2 linked regions of the Homo sapiens genome follow. The protein of the gene in region 1 purifies or fractionates together with the protein of each later gene. This does not show direct contact. Each region holds a gene or a part of one and is shown in the gene's direction. Other genes may lie near its edges.

Region 1 (3,654 bases):
CTTGTTTTATGGGCTGTGTCTTCCACCTTTGGTATCTTATTATTTTTAATGGCATTTCTCCTAATAAAGTCTCAGCAGTTCCACATGGAACACTAACTGGCAGAACTTATCACTGCTGCCAGGAGGGTGAGGTTGGAGTAGGAGTGGGGAATGCCAGTAGTGAATGTGATGTTCTGCAGAATGTTGAAGGGAGAAACTTTTATTTATTTATTTTTTAAGGACTTTGAGACTGAAAGTTATTCTAGTGTTGGAGGGGAAGGCAGAAGGTCATGGTGTCACAGTTGCAGATGAGGAAAGATGGCTTTCTCCTTAGACTACATTTCTTGTTGAAAAATCCATTGTTGGCCTGAAGCAGGTAAACCAGTTGTCAGGAAATTAATGACAAAGGTCCTTTAATGGATCATATTCTGTCAGGGGGAAAGGTCCCTGGCTTTTAAGACAGAAGAACATTCCCTTTTGCCCATTCTAGTATTTTATTCTACTACCAGAGAGGCTTATAGAGATTAAGACCCACTGAATAACAGTAGGGCCCTAATGAAATTTTTAGTATTGACGTGTAGTTGATAGAATCTACATATATGTATGTGATTATTTTTGTTGGTTACTTATTGTATAACTTAAAAAATAGATTTGTTGAGATATAATTCACAAAAAAAGGAAATCCATCCATCTAAAGTATAAAATTCGGTGGTTTTTAATATATTCGGAGTTGTGTGGCCATCACAGCCATTCAATTTTAGAATAGTTTCATCACTTTAAAAAGAAACCTCATACCTATTAGCAGGCATTCCTCTTTCTACCTCCCCTTAGCCACCATGAATTTTCTATCAATGGCTTCTGCACACACCATATAAATGGAATAATATATGGCCTTTTGTGTCTGGCTTCTTACATTCAGCCTGATGTTTTCAAGGATCTTCCATGTTGTAGCATGTATCAGGACTTCATTACTTATTATAGCTACATAATATTCTATTGTATTGATACACCATTTTGTTTATCCATTTGTCTGTTGATAGATACTGTTGTTTCTTTTTCTATTTTCTAGTGCATCATTTTAATTCCCTTTTTTGTTATATGTTTTTGAGTTCTTTTTTAAAAATTCCCTTGGGGATTACAATTATCTTAATTTTTCACAATCTAATTTTGATTAATAGCAACTTAATTTTAATACTGTGTAAAACTTTGCTCTTATGTGGCTCTGTTTTCTCCCATATTTTTGTGCCATTATTGCTATACGAATGACATCTTTCTACATTGTGTGCCATCATCAATACAGCTTTACAATTATTGCTGTATGCAGTTAATTTTTTTTTCTTTTTTCTTTTTGAGACAGGGTCTCTCTCTGTTGCTCAGACTGGAGTGCAGTGGTGAGATCTCAGCTCACCGCAACCTCTGTCTCCCAGGTTCAAGTGATTCTCCTGCCTCAGTCTCCCAAGTAGCTAGGATTACAGGCACCCGCCACCACACCCGGCTAATTGTTTATATTTTTAGTAGTAATGGGGTTTTGCCATGTTGGCCAGGCTGGTCTCGAACTCCTGGCCTCAAGTGATCCACCCATCTTAGCCTCCCAAAGTGCTGAGGGATTACAGGCATGAGCTATCACTCCCAGCCTGCAGTTAAATTTTAATCTAGTGGAGGAAAAGGGCTACAAAGAAAAACCACGTTTATACTGTTTTTTATATTTACTATGCAGTTACATTTTTACTGGTGCTTATTATTTCTTTGTGTGGATTTAAGTTACTGTCTAGTTTCCTTTCAGCTTAGTCTTGAGAGTTGTCTGTAGTATTTCTTGTAGGATAGGTCTGCTAGAGATGACTTTTCTCAGTTTTGTCTTAATTTATCCTTTAATTTTAGAGGACCGCTATGTTACTGATTTTTAAGTTCTTTGAATATATTTATAATTCCTGATGTAAAGTCTTTGTCTAATAAGTTTAACATCTGGGCCTCCTCAGGAATAATTTCTATTCGTTGTTTTTTTCCTGCGCATGAGCCATACTTTCCTGTTTCTTTGTGTGTCTTATACGTTTTGCTGAAAACTGGACATTTAAAATAATGTGTCTATTCTAGAAACTCAGATTCTTTCCCCTACCTGGGTTTCTTGTTTTTACTGCATATTTATTTATTTTTGTCGTTGCTGTTTGTTTAATTATGTTTCTGGGATAATTCTGCAAAATCTGTATTCTTTGTATGCAGCTACTGAAGTCTCTGCTCAGTCAACTTAGTGGACAGCTAATGAGTGGAGAGAGTTTATTAAATTCCTTGAACTAATAAGTCTCTTAGCTTTTTCTGAGAGTCTCTGTGTGTTTGTTGGGGTATGTGTTTAATACTACTGCAGGCAGTTTACAACTCTGCCTTAGCTTTTATTTTCTGCCTGAGAAGAACCTCAAAGTCAGTCAGAAGTGAGAGATTAGGACCTTTTTAGATCTTTCCTGGGCATTTGTAGAGCCCTGCCCATGAACATGGCCTTTTAGGTTCCAAGGAATATTTGGGAGCATTATAGAAATCTCATTTCCTATTTTTTTCTTTAAATTTTTTTTTTGTTGTTGTTGTTAGACTTTTGTTAGCCCTAACTGGTATTGCTACCTCTGGTAGCTGTGATGTTAAATAATTACTGCTGATAGTTTTCAACAAATGCCCTTGGGATAGGGCTGTTCTCAAAGAGCAAGCTTTGAGTGAGGTCAAAGAAAGACAAAGCTGGGGCATGGAGCTTTCCAAGGGGCTTCCTGACAATTTTTCTCAGTATGGGACTTTTAGGGAGCTCCAAACCTGTTGTTCCTCTGCTGTCCACAGTGGTGGCTAGGCTGATGTTTTCACAACAACCACATTTGTGCACATGGTTTTTAAGTCTTCTAAAAGCTTGAGTGAGGGGGATGGGAATAGGGCAAGGTAAAAAACACCTCAAAGCTTACTGTTTTTACTGATATTCGGCTGTTTTTCTTGAATAAATGCTCCTTGGAATGTTGCAAGTCTTTGTTAATTCCTAGAGTACTGAAAAAGTTGATTTGGACAATTTTTACCACTGTTTTTGTTGCTATTGTGGAGGAAGAAATTTTTGATGGTCCGTTCTCTGCTGTTCTAGGAGTGTTGTCTATAAAATTCTTTTAAGAGCACTTTTAAAATTTGGGATGGGACAAGGGAAAATTGTTCTACCAAAAATACATCTGCACTCAAATGTTTATTGCAGCACTATTCACAATAGCAAAGTCATGGAACTAACCCTAGGTGCTTATCAGTGGTGGATTGGATAGAGAAAATGTGGTACATATACATCATAGAATACTATGCAGCCATAAAAAAGTGAAATTATGTCTTTTGCAGCAACATGGATAGAGCTGGGGACCATTATCCTCAGTGAATTAATGCAGAAACAGAAAATCAAATGCCACATGCATTCTCACTTATAAGTGGGAACTAAACAATGGGTACGCATGGACATAAAGACAGAAACAGTAGACACTAGGGACTCCAAAAGGGGGAAGGGAGTGGGAGAGGGGCTGAAAAACTACTTATTGGGTACTACATTCACTGTTTGGGTGATGAATTCAATAGATGCTCAAACCCCAGCATTATGCAATCTATCTACGTAACAAGCCTGCACATGTACCCCCTGGTTAAACAAACAAAAAAGATGAGATTGGGAAAAGCCATAGA
Region 2 (3,754 bases), on another chromosome or scaffold:
ATTAGTCTTTTTCTGTGGGTAACATTCTAATTATTTTGAGATGTGTAGTAACTAAATAATAATAATAATAATAATAATAATAATAATTACTAAGTGGCTCTTTCTTTCTTGGGATCTGTGTAGGGCCAAGGCCTAATGAGTCAGATTCTGATGATCTGGATGATGAAGACTTTGAATGTTTAGATAGTGATGATGACTTGGACTTTGAAACACACGAACCTGGCGAAGAGGCTTCCCTGAAAGGAACACTTGATAATCTCAAGTCATACATGGCCCAGATGGACCAGGAACTAGCACACACCTGCATCAGCAAAAGTTTCACCACTAGGAACCAAGTGGTATGTGTGTTTTTAACCTCTTTCTCTTTCTGAGTCTAGTATGTCAGATAGCTAAAACCATATTTTATCATAGTTTTTCTTTTTTTGGTGTGTGAGATTTGAAATAAATAAGAATGTTAATTGTTTTCCTAACTCTGGTAGGATAAAGGATCATAGACTTAATTTTCCAAAACATAAGCTTCATTATATTACTTATTCTACGTTATCTATCAGGATTTAAAATAAAAAGTCATATAATATGCTCAAATTAGAATGCGATTGTACACTACTACTTCTTAAATACATTTTTTTTCAAAAGTAGTTTAAAAAAACTACAGCTTAAATGGATTTTAAAAAAGAGAGGGCACATGTTCTCAAGACCTTTTGAGACTATGCCTTGGGCCACAGTGGATTAAAACAAAATAACATAAGTAAATAAACAGGATCTTAAACATTCAAATAACTTTCCAGTTTTAACAGTTTATTTTGTATTTTTCCCTAATTTAGAGCCAAATTTAGGATTCACCTTCCGTTTATGTTTTCATCCTAGTTTTTAATGCCACCACTGTCTAATCCTAAACAGAGGTATTATGGAAAGAGCAAGAACCCTGGAGTCTTATGGGTTAGGGTTTGAAGTCTAGCTCAGCTGTCCACTGTGAATGTATCTATAAACCAGTAATCCTCATATCATAAAATTAACATGAGAACCAAATTAGACAGCAGTAAAACCTACAATAGGCCTTTAATTAATGTTAATTCTCCTTGCTTTGATCATCTAAACCACTTTTAAAACTATAGTCACTTCCAGAATTGTCAAAATCTAGTAGAAACCATACATTAGATTTATCTAAAGCAGTATTTCTTAAATTTTAATGCGAATATAAACCAAAAGATCATGTTACAACATAGATTCTGATTAAGTAGGCCTGGGATGAAGCTTGAGATTTTCCTTTTTTTTATTATTATTTTGTTTTATTTTATTATTATTATTATTATTTTATTTGAGATGGAAGTCTCCCTCTGTCACCCAGGCTGGAGTACAGTGGCACGATCTTGGCTCACTGCACCCTCTGCCTCCTGGGTTTAAGCAATTCTCCTGCCTCAGCCTCCCAAGTAGCTGGGACTACAGGTGCGCACCACCGTGCCTGGCTAATTTTTGTATATTTAGTAGAGACAGGGTTTCACCATGTTGGCCAGGCTAGTCTCTGGAGCTCCTGACCTCAAGTGATCCACCCACCTCAGCCTCCCAAAGTGCTGGGATTACAGGCATGAGCGACCACTCCCAGCTGAGTTTTTCCATTTCTAATAAGCCCCAAGCGATGGAGACTCTGCTGCTCCATGGACAATGCTTTGGGTAGCAAGGACATAAAAGTCTATCGAGCTGTAATCTTTCAAATCCTTTCCCCAGCTTGTGGAATCAGAGGCCCAACTAACAATTTAGAATCTTTGTGGTTGGAACCACAAAGCCTTGTGTTTTTACTTTTAAGCTTTTTCACTGGGGGGAAAGAAAGGAACACTCGCTTCTTTCATTTTGAAGAAAATTTACATTATTATTTCATTTAATATTCACTTTTATGTTTGTTTCTTTTAAGACTCTTAGACAAGTTATAAATGTACCTTCTTAATTCTATTAGCCCTTGAGCTATTTCAAAATAGACATGCAATTTATTCGATTTGCAGGAATCTTTCCTGGAGAGAAATGTGTTATAACCTTTAGAACCAAGTTTTATTATGTGTGCTAGGCCATATAACTTGTAGACTTCATTTTCAGTTTATATCACCAAGGATAAGAAGTTTCCTTTTTAATTTGGAATGCAAATTTACATTGTGGCTTAGTTATCTTTTTATTGTAACCACCATGCAACCTAATGATACATTAGCCCATAATTTTCTTTTCCCTCTATGAATAAGGAACCTGTATCCCAGACTACCGATAACAATTCAGATGAGGAAGATTCTGGTACGGGAGAATCTGTTATGGCACCAGTAGATGTAGACCTGAACCTGGTTTCAAATATATTGGAATCCTATAGCTCCCAAGCTGGACTGGCAGGACCTGCTTCCAATCTTTTACAAAGCATGGGAGTGCAGCTGCCTGACAACACCGATCACAGACCAACAAGTAAGCCAACAAAAAATTAACCAGCACATTTAGCTTCTCTTTTTTCTTTTTAAATAAATATTGAATATGATTCTGTTCATTTCTAGTTTAGATTACTCATTTAGTAAAAATGTTTCTTCATTACAAGTTTTACAGATTGACTTCTCCATGAGCCCCAAATGTGGCCCTCTTGGCACAAGTCTTTGTGATCTCAGCTGTGGGTTATACACAGGTTTTGAACTCGGCAGGGTAGAATCTAGCCCCTAGACAACCTTGAGATGAAATTCACACACTTCATGCTAAAGACATACCCTACCACAATATACCCTTGGAGTAATTCTAAATATTTAAATTTCTCCCTTACTGCTATTCATCCTCAGATCAAAATTTCAAGTTGACAAATTTGGATTTGAAAACTCATTCACTTTTTCAATTTTTTTAATGAGGCATAACATGCATATGGTTAAGTGCACAAATCTTAAGTGTACAGTCAGTGAATTTTTGCATGTATGTATGTACCTGAAGCAAGATATAGAACTTATTTACTTGTAAATAACAGCTATATTGATATGTCACATACCAAAAAATTTACCCTTTAAATTATACAATTCAGTGGTTTTTAGTATATTTACAAAATTGTGCAACCATCCCTACCATCTAATTCTAGAATATTAGAAACCCCATACTCACTAATAGTCTCTCATTCCCTTCTACTCCCAGCCCCTAGAAACCACTAGTCTACTTTCTGTCTCTATGGATTTGCCTATTTTGGATATTTCATACCTGATACTGTACTTAATTGTTTTAATTAATTAATTGGTTTGATATTTAATATAACTGATATATCTTTTGCTAAGATGAAATGTTTATTTCTTAAAATGATGCTCATATTCCTCCTAAAATAAATCAAGTATTATCTATATATCATAAAATTCACCATTAAAAGCAAAAAAAAAGTCTTCTTTACAGACAGCTCCATATACTGACCATGTTTTTATAATCTAGGTCTCTGGATTCTTCTTTATTATTGTATGCAGCAGAGAGATGCCTTTACTATATCTTACCCTATCCAAGTAAAAACAATGGAAATAGTTTCATACTGTTCCCTCTCCAGTGACCAAGGGAGGAATTAGGAGAATGGTGTAGTAGAGTTCTCATCTGAGAACTTACTATCACGAACTAATAAAAACTGAATATGGCCGGGCATGGTGGTGGGCGCCTATAATCCCAGCTACTTGGGAGGCTGAGGCAGGAGAATAGCTTGAACCCGGGAGCCGGAGGTTGCAGTGAGCCAAGATTGCGCCATTGCGCTCCAGCCTGAGCGACAAGAGCGAAA

The links. The genes of interacting proteins can lie anywhere in the genome.
Region 2: the proteins of RAB27A (region 1) and ECD purify together in Homo sapiens (affinity purification with mass spectrometry; one large-scale study listed by BioGRID and IntAct). This does not show direct contact.

Annotation. Positions count from the first base shown.
Region 1 is NC_000015.10:55,230,800-55,234,453, reverse strand, and holds part of RAB27A (ras-related protein Rab-27A), read left to right. Parts: intron 1-3,654. UniProt on the Homo sapiens protein: Small GTPase which cycles between active GTP-bound and inactive GDP-bound states. In its active state, binds to a variety of effector proteins to regulate homeostasis of late endocytic pathway, including endosomal positioning, maturation and secretion.
Region 2 is NC_000010.11:73,133,288-73,137,041, reverse strand, and holds the end of ECD (protein ecdysoneless homolog), read left to right. Parts: intron 1-123; coding exon 124-338; intron 339-2,228; coding exon 2,229-2,459; 3' UTR 2,460-3,374; downstream 3,375-3,754. UniProt on the Homo sapiens protein: Regulator of p53/TP53 stability and function. Inhibits MDM2-mediated degradation of p53/TP53 possibly by cooperating in part with TXNIP. May be involved transcriptional regulation. In vitro has intrinsic transactivation activity enhanced by EP300.